4 separate regions of the Homo sapiens genome follow, and regions 2, 3 and 4 are each linked to region 1. Evidence: fine-mapped expression QTL. A gene starts in region 1. Each other region holds a variant in brackets. All regions are shown on one strand. Distances are from middle to middle. Region 1 holds the start of PEPD (peptidase D). Region 2 overlaps PEPD (peptidase D). Region 3 has its middle 7.4 kb from the start of CEBPG. Region 4 overlaps PEPD (peptidase D).

Region 1 (4,158 bases):
GCTCCCGTCCAGACATCAGCTTGGTTCCTTCAGGAGAGCAGCAGGTCTCAGGCCAGCTTGGAATCCTGAACCCAAATGCAACCCCTGGCACTCCCTGTGAGCACCGAGCCAGCCTAACCAGAGAGACAGCACACCCACAGCTGGGCACCAGCCTGCTCAGTCTACCCTTTAAAAGGGTCACAGGCTGGATTCAAGGATCTGACCCTGAGTTCCTTGACACCCATCTGAGACTTTGTCTGCACTGTTCTCTACCTGAAGGGAGTCTCATTGCTGAAGGACTAGCACAAAAGTCACCCAGGAAGTGAAGCCTTCCCACACTTTATCTGAGCTCAGAGTCCATGCCCCTCCTTTGCAAATGGCAAGACCACACGGCAAGCAGATGGATGACAGAGTCCCATGTGTCCATCTGTTCCAGTGGCCTGTGAGTACCTTAAGGGAAGACCCACTGCTATTCCTGGAATATAGCAGGTGCCCACAAAATATTTGATTTGTATGCTCTAAGCTCCCTCAACCTTGGGGGCCAACTTAGAACCCACTTTCTGTTGCCATTTTCCCTGTATCTTAAAAAGAGAGATGCATTCAGTCCACTAGATCCCCCATTCTGACCTCAGTTTCCAACCTGGCATCTGGAATACTGCTCCCTCCTACACCATGCCCCCTCTACCCCACTGTACCACCAGACCCACACCTTCTCCCATTGAACTCACACATAGCTCAGGGGAGCCTAATCTTTAAAAAACAGATCAAGCAGCTTGTAACAAAACCCTTCCAGCCCATCAGGGCAAAGTCTGAAGCCGCCACCTGGAACACCACACCTTCCAACCAGCCCCAGGCATGCACCCCTGTCCCCAGAACACTCTGAACTCTCAACCTTTGTCCCTTACCCTGGGCTCAGATGCTCCCTATCTGGGAGATTCCGCCCAACGCTCTGGTGAACCCATCTGTCCACCCTTCCTCCCACTACGACCACTCAGCTTTCTTTCATTTAGCCCAGTATGGAGCACCTACTGTGTGCAAGGCACCGGGCTACTGAGAAGCAGGTAACATACCTGCCCTTGCACTCTAAATGCAGAGAAGATAAAGAACAAGTACAAACAATGCTCTATATAGTTTATCAGGTGATGATGAGGGCACAAAAAGTGGGATAGATGGTTAGAGAAGGATTCCCTGAGGGGGTGACATTTGGCCCCTGAAAGAAATGGGGAAGTGCCCTGCTGGGAAAAGGGAATTCCAAGTCCGTCTCGAATACCGCCTCCTCCGGGAAGCGCCCGGGTCCCTGGGGTCCTCGCAACGCCGCCCTCCTACCCGGGGGTCTTGGCAGCGAACATGCGTGTCGACCCCAGCCCCCACCGCAGCCGCACACGGTGGGGCCGCCAGACGCGGGCAGGTGGGGCCGGAGCCAGCCAGGAGGGTGGAGAGGAGCTGCGGCCCCCGCGCTGACCCTGACTCGGAGCGTGCAGCTCGCCGACCGGCGCTGGGACTCCGGGCCAACGGGAAGAGGCGCCTACCCGCGGCATTCAGCGACCCCGGCTGACGCTCTCACCCGCGGTCCGGCCGGGACACCCATGCCCCTCTCCACGCCAGCGGGAAAGAGCGAGGGAGGCGCAGCACTCACCCGGTGGCCGCCGCCATGTTCGCCCGGCACCGGCGTCACGTGAAGTGCGGCGTCAGCTGAGCCCCTCCGGGTGCCAATGCATGGGGCGGGGTAAGGGCGGGGCAGGGGGCGGGGCATGGAGTCCTTGACCCACCTCCTCCAGAGCCAAATTCCACGGGACGGGAAGGGGCGGTACCTGGGGAAGGGCGGAGCCCCGATGGGGCGGGGCTCCCGGAGATTGGGGGCCCAAGAGCTCGGCCAGGATAAATGAGCGGGCTGCCGGCTGCAGACAGTAGGTCGGGTTAGCGGGCAGCATCTGCAGCCTTTTCGTGGTGGGAGGGAGGTCCTGAAGCAGAGGACATCTTGATTCTGGTTCAGTCCCCGATCTGGCGTACCAGCCCACCCGGGAGAAGAACACATAGGAATAAAGAAACCACGTGGGAGGAGAGGAGGGAGACTGACCCAGGCTAGGGTCGGGGCAGAGGTGGCGATTTTTGTTTAAGAAGGGAAAGGGCTTGAGCAAAGGCCGTGGGGCAACTGGAGGACTCTAAATGTGCAGCGTCCAGGAGAATGTGCGCGAGAGAGGGGCAGCCTAAGGGAAGCAAGGGCCAGACCCTGCGGGGCCTCCACTGTGGGGCCTATGAGTTAAGTCTGGTAGGATCTTTTCTAGGTTTCCTGGGCTGCAGAATGGAGAAGCTGGAGGAAGGGAAGCCAGGGAGGAGGGCAGGCGAGAAGTGGGCACAGCCGAGAAGGGTTTAGGAGGGAGAGTCTGCCAGAAGGCTTACTCCTCTGCCCCACTGGGCACTGGTACTGGGTGCAGAGTCCTGCAGAGAAGGTGTAGGGACCCTGCAGCAGACGCTGCCCTCCCTACTGCCAACAGAGTCAGGGCATTACAAGCACGGCCCAAATGCGTTGCACATGTGAGCTCATAGAAACCTCACCACAGCCCTATGAGGTCGAGACTATCTTTAAGTCTATTATACAGATGAGGAAACTGAGGCCAGAGAGTGCTCACACAGAGGCTGAGCTCATGAAGCCATACCCTGAGGAGTGACCTCACTGCCCCTGTGAAGGAAGGGGGCCCCACACTGTTGGGGGAGGGCGTCCCTGGCGCCAAGGGTGTACAGATGTGTGTGGTGTACAGATGTGTGTGGACAGGTGGATGGGTGGCCCAGGATAGGCGTGTGGGGCTCCTGACCCCACCCTGCAGCTGTCCCACAGCTGGAAGTGGCTTCTGATCAAAGGTTGTGGGTTGGGGGATGCTTCTTGTTTCTTTATCGAAACAAGGATGTGGGTCACCATGGCCAGGCTGGTGGGAGCCAGGGGCTATGACTGGAGAAGCAGCTTCTGTTTGTCCCCATGAAGCAGGGAGGAGAATAGGCCCCTTAAATAGGAGCAAGGGAGCCAGCCATAAGCAGGGTAGTGAAGGGCACGTGGCACAGTTACCTGGAAGCCCAGTACCATCCCTGCTGTCCTCATCTGTCAGGAGAGAGCTAATGGGGCCACCTCACAGGGCTGCTAGAGGGTTTTACACTCAAACCTGCAGGCACAGCCAGAGACCAAAGCTGCCAGGAGGAATGTGGCCCCTCCAGACAGCCCCTCCCACCTCCCGGTCCCAGATAAGGAAAACGAGAGCTAATGGAAGAGGGGGGGCCTCATCCCTTCTACCCCTTCCCACAACACATGGACAATTTGCAGGGGTCCCTGACCTCCAGGCAAGGTCCAAGAGGAGCTCTCTCCACCCTCTTGCCAGTTTCCAGGAAGAAGAACAGAGGTAAGGATTCACACCCCACTGCCTGGCCTAGGGGCCCCTGAGAACTTCTAACACCCCTAGTTAAGCAGTAGGTCCGCCTTCAGCTTAAGAAACTCAACTCCCTAGTAAGTGGCGCTTTAAAAAATACATAATAACAAAGGGTGAGCAGAATGAGCTTTCCATGCGCCTTCAAGGAAGGAAAACATACCCCCCAGCTCATTCATTGCACCTGCCTCCCACCATTTCTTTTGACATAAAATATGTCAAAATTAAGCCAGCTGCCAGCTCTGAGTGCTTACTAATATGAAAAAGAAGTCAATATCCCAAACACAAAATAATGGAAGGAAGGCACCCACCAACTGAGTGGAGCTCCCTTGTTTGTGGACAGTAATATGGAGGCACTGCCCATGACCCCTGCCCACCCAGGTCCCCTGCCCTCTCCCCTCCCCATCAGGGGCTCCGGCAGGGCTGCCCCTCACCCCTCACCCCTCCCCATCAGAGGCTGTGGCAGGGGCTCCAGAAGCCGCCCAGAATATGGGAGAAGACCATTTAGTTACTTATGCAGGGCAGACCCAGGACGTTGCTGGAGCCAGGAGGCAATTGGGGGAAGATTGATTTTAGAGAGTCGAAGTGGGAGTGTGTAAATCAGCCAAGGCAGCGCGCCAGGCAGCACTCTCATGCGGCATTGCCTCCGAGGTCACAGGCCCTTGTGGCCGAAACAGTCTCCTCTCGTCAAGCCCTGCAGGTGGCTGGTAGATGTCTGCACTCGGTCAGCCTGGTAGCCCGGTAGCCAGCATAGCATTATTCTCCA
Region 2 (4,158 bases), 74 kb before region 1:
CCCTTCCCCCAAGCCAGCTCTGGCCACAGCCTGCTGCCCACCAGGAGCGGCCTGAATTATTCCCCGTGGCAGAAGAGAGAAATCCACGACCTCTAGCCTGCCTGCCCCTGCCCCCACCACCAAGGAAGGGCCGCCTGTCCAAACCACCTGGACCCCGCAGCCTGTTCGGGATTCATTTCTTTCCTCTTCAAAGCATTACAGATTGATTGCCAAGTCTTGCCGTAAATCAAAAGACAGTCACTACTCATTACCTACTTAGAATTCCCCGAGTTCTTCCTGGGAAGCCATTTCTCATCTGTTTGATCTCGGAGCCACCAGCACTATCTCCAGGCACGCCACCCATCACGGCAGCCGCCAGACACTTTTTTCTTCTGGGCTCCTTTCTCAGCACCTAGATGAATTTCTACCTTTCTCCAGCTTTAAGAAGAGCTGCCAAGATAAATGATTCAAAGACTCCAGCTCATGCTGAAAATATATGGACTGCTTAAAGCCTATTATGAATCAGCCAACACTGGGGAGAGACGCACTGGCTGCATCCTCACCGGACGGGTCATCCTGGCTGCTAAGACCTAGACCCACCCGGGCACGTGGACACTCTCTGGAGTCTTTTCACCCGTGGGATCATGACACTTGCCCAGCTTCAACCAGCACCAGGTGCCCATGCCATCCCCAAGCCTCTGCGACCTCTCAGCACAGGGTGGCCGAGAGCCCCACAGTCACATGCTGGCCTAGCAGAAGTGAGGGGTCCCCTGTTTGCACAGTGCATCCAGGAGGAACTTCGGTCCCCAGCCTTGAAGCTGGGACCCCTTTTGCAAAAGCAGCATGCTCTCAGCCACGGCTGCTCACCACCCAGAGGGGAGGGCCCAGCGGGCATCAGGACCCCGCACCGAGGGTGGTGAGGCCTTTCTGCCACCTCTGCTGATAGGGTCCCAGGACCACGGCTTTCCGATGTGCCTCCCACTGTCCAGTCTATGCGCCAGTCTCCACAGCCATCAGCAGGCCCCACGAAGGGCATCTAGCCCCTCTTATCTTGCTGGGATGGACAGTAAGAAAGTAAAACAGCACCAGCAAAGCCCAGCCAGGCTCCGACTCAACCAGCCACCCAGACATTGGCTGTGTGGGGGACTAGACCGCCAGGGCCCTCCAGCAATGAACTGCGGTCACCTTGGGCTGGAGAAGTAGCTATGGTGCACTTCGCCCTAGCTGGGATGCCCAGGAGGGCCACCTGTGCCACCGTGCTGCTTCTGAAGGTTGTGACATGGGAAGAGTTCTATCCCCAGGTGCAGACATGGAGGTCAGCAATCACCACTCACCAATGAGGGGACCCCAAGTGCTGTCACAGGTGCATCCACAAGGCTTGTGGCACACTCATGGAGGGTGGCCCCAGGGGAACACTGCTGCACCAGTGCCGGATGACTGTGGGTGAGGAGGGACACAGACTCATGGACCCTGGGGCTCTGCCTCCACAAAACGGGCTTTTCTAACAAGAGGGTGGAATTCACATGAAGGAAGCTGGCTGGTTCTGTGGGCAGCAGTGACAATGACCCCAGATCCATTTCCCGCTGTCCCCCTGCCAAGTTCCTGCAGGTGCAGGAGCCCGGGATGCATGGCAGTGACAATAGCATTTGTGCAGGCAGGGCAGGGGCGTGCTAGCCCAGGCCAAGTCTGAGGCCTGTCACTGACATGGGATGGAGCCTGTGCCCACCAGCAGCCTGGCTCCTGGGCATCTAGGCCTGTTCAAAACCTGTAACACGGAAGCCAACAGAAATCCACAGCCAGAGGGAGCTGCGAGAGGACGGTGGCTGAGTGGGTGGGGCCAGGCCAGTTTCCCTCCTGCTCAGCCACCCCCAAGATGCTTCCTCACCCTACTCTGGGGCAGCTGAAGAAGGCAGCTGTGGCCAGGCCCATGGCTCCCTCCTGGACAGCTGCCAGAGGAAGCACGAAGACCCACACTGCCCATCCTCCATGCCACAGACAGAGTCCAAACCCTCAGCCTGAACCACAAAGGCAGAGGATGGCCTTGTG[C/T]GGGAGGTTCCTGAGGACGCAAACTCAGCTTCACAGCCCCGGAACACAGAGCCTGCTGTCGGAGTATCTAACAGGGATGGGGAGGAGCCTCAACTTTGGTTTTATCATAAATTACCTCCAGGCTTCAAGAGCAGACATGCCTGCCGGCAGGTATGGAGACAGCCCTTCCTGGATGAAACCATTCATGTCATCCACAGAACTCAGAGCTAGGAGGAGAAAAACTCACGGCCCGGAATAATTACTCCCGCAGGGAGCGTCTTTCGCACCAGCAGGTGATAGGTCTGGATGAGGATTTTCTAAAAACCGGCACCAAACCTCACAGCATAATCACTACTGCCTGCCTGTTCTGGGAGCCAAACCTCAATAACTGCTCCTGCGGGGCTGCTCCTCACTAGATGCGCCCAGGACTTGGAGCCACGCCTTCTCACGGGCAGAACCAGACAGGACACAGCCACCTCCGAGGTGGGCGTCTGGTCCACCTGCCCAGCTAAACACCCTCCCATCTACCACGGGCTCCTTCCGGCATGGAAGAACAGGAAAGGCTCCTTTAGAGTGGGGGACCAGCTCCAGAGGCCTGGAGGCACCCACAGGAGTGAAGCTGGCCAGGTAGTGGCATGCAAAACAGAAAAAAAAGTCTTTTTTTTTCCCCAGAGCTCTCCTATTTTTCTTGAAATACATGACCCTTTCGACTATCTTTTTTTTCTCTTTTGATAGAGATGCTGGTATGAGAAGGCTTTCTCATTTATGAAAGAACCAACAGCATGAAAGCCATGAAAAGAGTCGGCTTCAGTGCTCGGGGAGGTGACGGGGAGCGGTGGGGCCTGTGGCGTGCACCCTGAACGAAAGCTATGTAGCAAGCACCACGCTGCTGCTCTGTGGAAATTCCAGCCCACGGTTACCAGCTACTCTGATTTTCAGGAAAAGCCAAAAAAATCTGATTTTTCAAATTTGGTTGACTTCAATGAACCAAAATAAAGTGTTAAAATACCTATTGCCTGGGCCAAACGGAAACTGCGTGTGTACTGGATGTGGCCCAGAGGCCACCAGTATATAAACTCTGGCCTTTCTCTTGCTAGAAAATTCTTCCTGGAGAATGAGAGGTGGGGACCCAGGGTTTCCCCACACTCCCCAACCAAGACCCTGACGGGACAGAGGCCCCCAGAGGCTGCAGTCCACTCTCACAGGGGCCTCGGGGGAAGGCAGGCAGCAAATGGGGGTGTGGCCAAAGCCAACTCCAGGTAGCTGGCCCACTGTAGAGAAGACATCTTCCATGTCCACCGAGGTGACTCGGTACTGTCTGGACCACCTGGTGCAACTCATAGCCCCCTCCTCAGCTCCTCTGGGGTCGCCCATCTTGCACAGTGAACCTACAAGCAACCTAAACCGTTCCTCCCCCTTTCTTCTGGGCCTGAGCAATTTCAGCAGAGCCCCGCATGGTGGGGTCAATCAGACAGCTCTTGGCCAGCTGTGCAGAAAGAGCCAGAGAGGTCTCCTGGGTGAAAAATGAGAGGAAACCTAAAAAGATCCACCAGCCCATGTTTTCTCAGGATCCATGAGGAGAGCTCACCGGAGAAGCCTGCGCCAAAACAGGAAGGGACCAAGCCACAAAATGCACACAAGAAAACAGCAGCAGAACGAGTGTGCAGGGTCACAGCAGGAGAATGGGAGACAGGCTTGAGTTTCTCACTGGTGCGCAAGTGGACATCATGAGAGGAAGCTAACAGCCCCGGATCACATCCAGGAGACCTAGTACGTGAGGAGGAGGAATTTCAAAGATGACCCTGAGATGCAGAAAGCTTTCACTGCTCAGATGAAAGAAGTCGGTCATAGACTATCGCAGGTGCTCACAGGGACCACCCCAGGCGGTGTCCCAATGTGCATGGCTCCGATCCCAGCGGGTGCCACGTTACCTTCTGAAACTGATAAGGAAGCCACAGAGAAACCAGGGAATGAAATCTGTCCGGGGTGACATGATCAATAATTATATCACAGGTCTCAGGTAGCAGGACCCAAGGGGATGAATGCTTGCCTCTGGGAGTGACCAGGGAGGTAACAGACAGGAAGCAGAGCATGTGATGCCCCCGCTTGGGTGCAGGAGTGGCCACTGCCACTGGCCTGTCCACTGTGTGCAGA
Region 3 (4,158 bases), 160 kb before region 1:
CTTTGTAAGGACTACAAAACAGCACTTGTCTCTCCCCAAATCCCAGTTTCTTCTGCACCTCAGTTCCCCCCCAGAAACCTCTGCAAAGGAAAGACAACAACCCCACCTTCCTCTTCCAGCCAAAACCCCAACATTTATGCAAATAGACTGGCGACTCCACCTGCTAAACCCAAGTCAATATGAATCCCAGTTGAGGCTGACACAGGAACTGATTATTACCGTGGGAATCTAAACGAAAAATAAGATGAAAAAGGAGCAGTCACGGCGGCCTAGGAGTGGACGCAGATTCCTGACGCTAAGCACAGGGATTCTAGGCCACAAGCCCACCTGGCCTGGCTGTGTCTCCTTGGCCCTGTCTCATCTGTTGGGCACCAGCTCCCCCCTGCCCCCTTCTCCAGCCCCTTGGCTTGGTCCTCACAGGACTCCCAGAACTTGGGACAGGGCCTGGCTCAGAGCAGGAATTCAATCAACATCTATTGACTGAGACAGATGAAAGAGAATAGGAGAATGAGTGCCAGGGACAACCATGTCCCTCTGTCTGGGAAGCTTCTCATTTCCTTCTCAGCTCAGTCTTGTGGCTTCCAGGGGTTGACCTGGTGTTTGGACCTTCAGCGGAGGATGGGGCTTCCCCACTAGACCCAAAAATGGTGTCCTGGGCTTCTCCGTCACCCTGCAGTCTCAAAGTGGACCCCTCCACCTCCCCTTCCTTCTTTCTATCCCTCTCTCCTCCTGGAGGAGCTCCTGTAGATCTACTCTCCCTCTCTGCTCCATTTCTCTGCATGATTTGGGTTTGCCTGGCAGAAGCACAGTCACCGCTCGTGGACTGAGGGAGGGAGTGGGGCCTGAGGCTCTTCTGCTGCTTTCTTCTTTACCCATTTGGCTAAAATCTGGCCTGGGTTGTTAATGTTTTAAAACAGTACTGTTTTAGGTTAATGTTAAGACTGCAATGCATCCCAAATACTTAAAAAAATTTCTCAGAACTATTTTATTTTTAATTAATTATTGTAAGAGATAGGGTCTCGGTCTGTTGCCCAGGTTGGAGTGGGATGGCACTATCGCAGCTCACTGTAGCCTCGACCTTCTAGGCTCAAGCCACCCTCCCGCCTCAGTCTTCCAAGTAGCTGGGACCACAGGCACACGCCCATGCTCGGCTAATTTTTAATTTTTTTTTGTAGAGATGGGGCCTCACTATGTTGGCCAGGCTGGTCTCAAACTTGACCTCAAGCAATCCTCCCACCTCAGCCTCCCAAAGTGCTAGGATTACAGGCACTGTGCATGACTCAAAACAACTTAAGATTTATAAAAAATTGAGAAGGAGGTATAGATTTCCCAGTTTCACCTATTACTAACACCTTACATTCATATATTTGTTATAGTTAACGAAGATATATTGATACATTATCATTAATTGAAGTCCATTATTAAATATTGCCCGTACTTCAAATCTGGATTTCCTTAGTTTCTAATATCCTCTTTCTGTTTCAGGATCCCATCTAGGATACCACATCACATTTAGTCATCATGTCTCTTTAGGATCCTCTAGACCAGGTGTCCCTATTTCCTGAGCCACAGACCCATTAGCAACCGGGCTGCCCAGCAGGAGATGAGTGGCAGGTGAGCAAAAGTTACTGCCTGAACTCTGCCTCCTGTCTTATCAGCAGCGGCATTAGACTCGCACAGGAGCACAAACCCTATCGTGAACTGTGCATACAAGGGATCCAGGTTGCACGCTCCTTATAAGACTCTAATGCCTGATGATCTGAGGTAGGACAGTTGCATCCCGAAATGATCTCTCCTCCCCTCCTGCTCCCTATCTGTGGAAAAACTGTCGTCCATGAAATTGGTCCCTCTTGCCAAAAAGATTGGGGACTGCTGCTCTAGACTGTGATACTTTGTCTGACTTTCCTTGTTTTGATGATCTTGACGGTTTTGCGAAGTCTTAGGTAGGTATTTTACAAAATGCTGCTCTATTGGAATTTGGT[G/A]TTTTTCTTAGACTGGGGTTATGAGTTCTCAGGAGGAAGACCAAAGGGTAAAGGGCCATTTTCATCTTATCTTATCAAGGATACTTGCTATCAACACGGTTTATGACTGCTGATGTGGACTTCGATCACCTGCTAGTCTTTGTCAGGTTTCTGCACCATAAAGTTACTCTTTCTTCTCCTCCATATTCTACGCTTCGAAAGGAAGTCACTGTGTAGCCCACAGTTAAGAATCAGGGAGTGTAGCTCTCCAGCCTGAGGGCAGACTATCAATTATTTTGAGTTCTGCATGGGAGATTTGCCTCTTCTCTGTCATTTATACATTTATTCCATCATTTATTAACATCCGTAGGGACTCATGGATATTCATCTCATACTTTGGGTTATAATCCAATACTACGTTATTTGTTTTGCCACTCAAATAGTTCCAGCTTTGGGCACTGGGGGCACTTTCATTTGGCTCCTGTGGCCCTTTGATATAGTCTTATGGATGGAATGTTTATGTCTCCCCAAATTCATATGTTGAAGCCCTGCCCCACATGTGATGATATTTGGAGATGGGGTCTTTGGGAGGTAATCAAGGTTAAGATGAGGTCATGGGGTGGGGCACTCGGGATGGGATTAGTACCCTTATATGAAGACATGCTGGAGAATTCGGTCTCTCCCCACACAGACTCCCCAACAAGTGCACAAAGAAGAGATCATGTGAGCACACGGGGATATTGCAGCTACCTCCATGCCAAGAAAAGAGGCTTCAGAGTAAAATTTACCTCGCCAGCACCTTGATCTTGGACTTCCCAGCCTCCGGACCATGAGAAACAAAGTTGTGTTGTTTACGCCCTCAAGTCTATGGTATTTTGTCATGGCAGCCTCAGCTGACTGAGACACACCTCCCCAATTGCTTCACTTTCTGAGGACTTCCTTACTTTCTGGCACTGCAAGATGTTCCAGGCTCACCTTGTATATTTCCTGCCCCAGCCCTAGAATCAGCCACTTCTGTAAGGAGCCGGCTCCTGTTATTGGAGAATAGTATTGGAAACCAACAACAGGCTCCTAGGTAGCAAATTATTCTTGGATGGACACACTAGAAAACAGTTATTTTGTGCCTCCTATGTGCCAGGCACTATGCTAGCTCCTTTTCATGTTGGTTTACTTAATCCTCATAACAATTCTATGAAATATTTACTGTCAATCCTCCCCAGATGAGGACTGGAGGTGTAGCTGGGTTGAGTGCTAGCCAACACCACTCTGTTCTGTCTCCAAAGCCCATCACACTGCCTTGATAAAGACTGGTGTCACATACCTCACAAACACCATGTTTTTTTTTTTTTTTTTTTTTTGAGACAGATTCTCGCTCTGTCACCCAGGCTGGAGTGCAGTGGCGCTATCTCAGCTCACTGCAACCTCTGCCTCCTGGGTTCACGCCATTCTCCTGCCTCAGCCTCCCAAGTAGCTGGGATTACAGGCGTGTGTCACCATGCCGGGCTAATTTTTGTATTTTTAGTAGAGATGGGGTTTTGCCATGTTGCCCAGGCTGGTCTCGAATTCCTGGCCTCAAGTGATCCCAGATGGCACACATCTCTCCTTATGTGCAAAGATGACAGCCACCTGTGTGTGCACAGATGCATGCAGCTCTCCTCATGTGTGCAGGTGATATGTACCTATTTGCATGTGCTCACATACCTTTGTGTGCAGAGATGACATGTACTTATCCTTAAGACAGATGATGTGTCTCAACTCATGGAATAATGAAATCTGACAAACTGAAAAGTGCTTTAGAATGGACATTCACAGTACTTGCCAACTGCTCAAGCTTAGACCGTGTCAGATTTTTTGCTATCATCCATAGGACTCCCTTATGAGATGTGGGTATGTTCTAAGACAAACACTTAGCATCACAGCTGTTAGGATTTCAAACAGTGCTTCCAGAGATAAAACTGGAGGTTTACATTTTGCCCTCAAGCATGGGGATCATATCACACAAGAAAGAACAGATTAGTCAGCCAGGGTGAGTAAGGCTTCCATCAGAGCGACCACAGTGTGATCTGCCACTTGAAATGCCTATTGATGGGTTTGTCTGCCCAGCACTTCTTTTTCCTCCGAGATCAGCCCCTGCCAACCTCTCCAGAGCAGCCATGTTCATCCATCATGACCTGCTTTTAACACTTGATCATTCCTA
Region 4 (4,158 bases), 130 kb before region 1:
CCAAGCCTCACTTACCCTCTGGGTGGTCCTCTGAGGGCCGGGGAACCTTGTCTGGAGATGGCCCCCAGCCTCCCTTATCTGCCAACGGGCCCCAGAATGCCTGGGGATGAGGAGGCTGCAGGGTCCCAGGTGTGCGGCCCAGGGGCCTGGGAGGAGAGGGCGAACCAGCGGCAGAGCAGGGCTGCTCCGGGTTTGTGAGGGGCCAGGGTGAGTCGCCAGTGGGTGGGGCCTCATCAACTCCCCACGCCCCAGGTCTGAATGAAGCCAGAGGCGGCAGGACGTGAGGGGTGCCACGTAGCTCCATCACGAAGACCTGTCCTTAGCACCACTGTCCTGTGGGGCCCCATGCACCGTATCCTGACTGTGTGCCACCTTCTGGACAGGTGACACCTGGGCCCAGCAGGCAGACAGCACCGCCTCTATGTCCAGTTCTGTGGAATGCTCACAGATGCACCCCTGTCTTGGCCAGGGTCCCGATTCCCCCCTCCTCATGGCCTCCGTATACCACAGGGAGCCATGGGGCCCATCCCTGCCATCCCAATACACGCCTGCTGCCTCCTAGAGTCCCACCCTGCCCTGGGGGTCAGGCTCAGCGGCAGCTGATGGGCAGGCCACTCCGCCTGCCATGTCCACACTGACCTCTGGGTAGCCTCCCACGTCGTGCACGTCAATGCCCAGGAAGTGGCCAAGCCCGTGAGGCATAAACACGGCCCCCAGGTGAGCCTGGACCATGGCGTCCACGCTGCCGCTCAGGATGCCCATGTGGGCCAGCTCCTCCAGGTGGATGCGGTCAGCCAGGCGGTGCATGTCAGGCCACCAGACACCTGTGGGCCAGAGGGAGCTGCCGTGAGCCACAGAGCCCAGCAGCCAACACCGCAGGGCCAGGGGCTGGGAGATGTGAAGCCCTCACACTGGCTGTGGTGGGAGGGCCTGAGGTGGGGGGTGAGGGGGCAAGGGTACTACATCGGGGGCCCAGGGGGACAAGGACTAGGGTGGCCCCCCGTGCTGGGCTTTCCCAGCAAAAGCTCTGGCCCTCGGGACCCTTCTTGTCCCTCCATTCTGCCTCTAGGGGCAGGTTCCTGTCACCTGTAGCCAAGGGCCCAGCCTGGGTCTACTCTGTAGCCCATGGTGTGTCCACCCTGAACAGCCTATGCTTCTGGGCCCAGGGAAACCTAGCCAAATCCCTGGGCACCAGGAGAAACATGCACGTCTCCCCAGTAGCAGACACCAGGAGACTCTGTGGGCTCTGGCCCTGAGGCTCAGACCCAAACCCTGGCTCAGAGCTCCGATGGGGTTTTGCTGCTGTGGTGCAGTGGGGAAGCCCGAGGCTGAAAAGAGGGGTCCCTGCACATCCCAGAATGGGGATGAAACACCCCTGGAGCTGCTGCAGGGAGCAAAGGTTTCTGGGGAGAAGGTGCGGCTGGCACGGCCCCACGAGCTGGCTGGCAGGGGTTCGGGGCCCCGCCTGCCAACAGCAGGGGCACCATCTCCAGGGGAGCCAGATGTCCAACTCCCGGCTTCAAATCCAACTCATCTCTGCCGCATGTTTGTGGGGCAAAGGCCACCAAAGAGAGAACTTCCTAAGCACAGAGCTTTGGGGGCCACACAGGCTCTGTGGGGCTCTGGAGCATGGCCGCTAGGAAGGAGGCCCTTAGAGAGCTCTCCACGTAGAGCCTCAGCAGCCCACGGGTGCGCCCGTCCCATCCCCGGACTCTGTGGAATCCCAGCATCAGCCTCTCCTCATGGTAGCTTCCACTGCTGGACTTGGCTTGAGCACCAGATAAGGACTCGAGGCCGGTGAGGCCTCCTGCCCTGGCCCCATGGGGGCTGGGTTTGGGCAGGCCACGTGCTGGCAGAGGCCGGGGCCCCAGGACACTCTGGCCAGGCACGTGGCGGGGGGCCCCTATCAATGTGCAGCTCACTGGCTGGAGAGGGCGCCCAGCAAGTCCCTGCGGCACCTCCTGGAGAGGTCCAGCCCCACCAGGCGGAGTGACCTTGGCTCCCGAGGGCCTCCCTGCCAGGCTTGCCTTGGCGCAGAGCCAGAGCCTGCTCTGCATGGTCCCGATCACTGCTGTGGGAGGGGCCGGGGAGACCCTGAGCTGGCGAGGGCTGGGCTGTGAGAAGCAGGGTTCTGAACCTCTGTGGCTGGCGGAGGGCAGATGATGGGCTCGGCTGGCGAACAGGGATGAGAGTCCACACTGGGACACAGGCCATCACCCCCGACACACTGGGCACAAGTCCTTCATGTTGGGACCCCTT[TA/T]AGTGCCAGAGTTGGCCACTGTGGTGCTGGGGTCTCAGGCGGGCTGGGGGTGCACGGCTTTGGGCAGGCAGTATGGCTGTTGCCCGCCATTCACAGCACAGCGCCCCAGCCACGGCAGCAGCCTAAGGGTGGCAGGGGTGGAGATGCCCAGACCTGCCCCCACCCCCCACACAGAGCAGGGATCCTCCTCAGAGCCCAGCTCCCCATCAGCCCAGCCTCCTAGGGGCTGAGGTGGGGGCGGCCGTCCCGGGGTCTGGGGTCTGGCGTGGGGGAGGCCGTCCCGGGGTCTGGGGTCTGGCGTCGGGGAGGCCGTCCCGGGGTCTGGGGTCTGGGGTCTGGCGTGGGGGAGGGCCCGGGGTCTGGGGTCTGGCGTGGGGGAGAGCCCGGGGTCTGGCGTGGGGGAGAGCCCGGGCAGACCTGGGGCAACTCTGGCTGCAGCTGCCCTGTATCTGGGGCAGCCCTGGGCACACACACCCCTGGCTGGCCCAGCCCGCACCCCTGGCTTTTCTGAGGGGCACAACATCCCGGAAAAGGACACCTGGATAACTGCAGCCCACTTGGCCGCTCCCCCGCCTCCGTGAGCCTCAGCTGCCGCTGGTCAAACAGCCCCACCTCCGTGAGCCTCAGCTGCCGCTGGTCAAACAAACAAACAGCCACAAGGCAGGCCCCGGGGGGTTGCTCTCAGAGCCTCTGTGTCACCTGGGGGCTGGAGGCAGCACCCCGGACAGTGGCATTGGCCACCATTCCTCCATCGCGCATGACCAGCCAGCCCTGGTTCCACACTTGACATTCACTTGTTCCTGGGGGTGTGCGCCAAGCCTGCCCAGCCTCTGCTGCTGCTCTTCTCTGAGAACCCAGCCCGGACAATCCTGGCCCACCTCGCCCTTCCTCTCTGCTGCTGCATCCTCCAGAGGCCAGACCACCCCAAGGCACACAGGCCGTTTTACCTCAGGCCCTTTGCTATGGCCTGTGCCAGGCCTTGACCTGTGATGCCTCATCCAAGGGGTCTCTGCATAAAAGCTGTCCCCTCTCAGAGGAGACCTTCCTGCCTTGCTGTCCCAGGCCTGGTGATTTCTCCTTGCACGGTCCATCCAGCCTGCAGCCGTCCCCTGGACGGATCTGCTCGTTTGCTTCTCATGTCTCACTCCGAGGGTGGGGGTCTCCCGAGGGCACCGCTGGGCCTGGCATAAAGTGAGTGCCCCTCAGGTCTCCCAACAGCCTGCAAAGTTGGCACATGGGGCTGGGAGGCCTCCTGTGAGTGGCTCGTGCCCCAAGCCCAGCTCAACTGCTTCCTCTCGGACGCGCCCTTCTCTGGTCACCAAAGGGGAGCCCCGGGAAGTGCAGCCAGCTTTCCAACCAGGCTAACTTCAGCAGTGGGCTACGTTCTTGGCCCAGCCTCCGCAGAGGGCGGGAATCAGGTATAAATCATGCTCTGCGGTGGCCCTTCCCGGGGGCAGGCCCGGCGCCGCCCAGATGTGCCGGCCCGGGGGTCCCCTTGGCGCCGCTGGTCTTCCTTGCCTGTGCACCCTCGGGGAAGGCCTTGCACACAGCTCTCTTGGCCGGGAGCAGGGAGTTTCTGCCTGTGTGTGGTTAGGGTTGTGACAGTGATTCAACCTCCAGCAACTTGGCCCCAGCCTCTGGCCCGGATGGTGGTTACGACACCCACCGCCTGGGCGGGGGCCCCTGGAGTGTGTGAGGGTCACTGTCCTTGCACTAGGCTGGCAGGGTGGGCACCAACTTGAGGGTTCCCTTGCTGGCCTGGGCCCACTCTCAGGCTCCTCCCACCCTGGCAGCCTGGAGACACCGTCAAGCTCTCTAGTCCAGGCTGGAAGGCACCCCCGGCCCCTAGCCAGCCTATACCCAGATGCCACACTGAGAATCACACAGCAGAAATTGGG

Evidence for each region. PIP is the estimated chance that this variant, and not a neighbour inherited with it, causes the effect.
Region 2: its variant is the best candidate, but not a certain one, in a credible set for the expression of PEPD in whole blood (INTERVAL, PIP 0.90).
Region 3: its variant is the best candidate, but not a certain one, in a credible set for the expression of PEPD in whole blood (INTERVAL, PIP 0.69).
Region 4: its variant is the best candidate, but not a certain one, in a credible set for the expression of PEPD in anterior cingulate cortex (GTEx, PIP 0.88).

The regions. Positions count from the first base shown.
Region 1 is chr19:33,520,129-33,524,286 of GRCh38, forward strand. It overlaps PEPD (peptidase D), which reads right to left and starts at 1,663. Exons shown (of 15, transcript NM_000285.4): 1 at 1,616-1,663. The coding sequence starts at 1,632. LOC105372370 (a long non-coding RNA gene) reads left to right here and starts at 1,806. Exons shown (of 3, transcript XR_935918.3): 1 at 1,806-1,886; 2 at 3,293-3,368. RefSeq lists enhancers at 964-1,927, 1,928-2,890 and a silencer at 1,673-1,872.
Region 2 is chr19:33,445,869-33,450,026 of GRCh38, forward strand. The region is part of intron 9 of PEPD (peptidase D); the gene reads right to left. Among named protein-coding and RNA genes, the nearest start is that of PEPD, 74 kb to the right of the region's middle. The variant C/T (reference allele first, on the strand shown) is at 2,026.
Region 3 is chr19:33,364,234-33,368,391 of GRCh38, forward strand. No RefSeq gene overlaps it. Among named protein-coding and RNA genes, the nearest start is that of CEBPG, 7.4 kb to the right of the region's middle. The variant G/A (reference allele first, on the strand shown) is at 1,983.
Region 4 is chr19:33,390,656-33,394,813 of GRCh38, forward strand. PEPD (peptidase D) reads right to left here. Exons shown (of 15, transcript NM_000285.4): 13 at 640-824. Among named protein-coding and RNA genes, the nearest start is that of CEBPG, 19 kb to the left of the region's middle. RefSeq lists an enhancer at 1,856-2,620. The variant TA/T (reference allele first, on the strand shown) is at 2,260.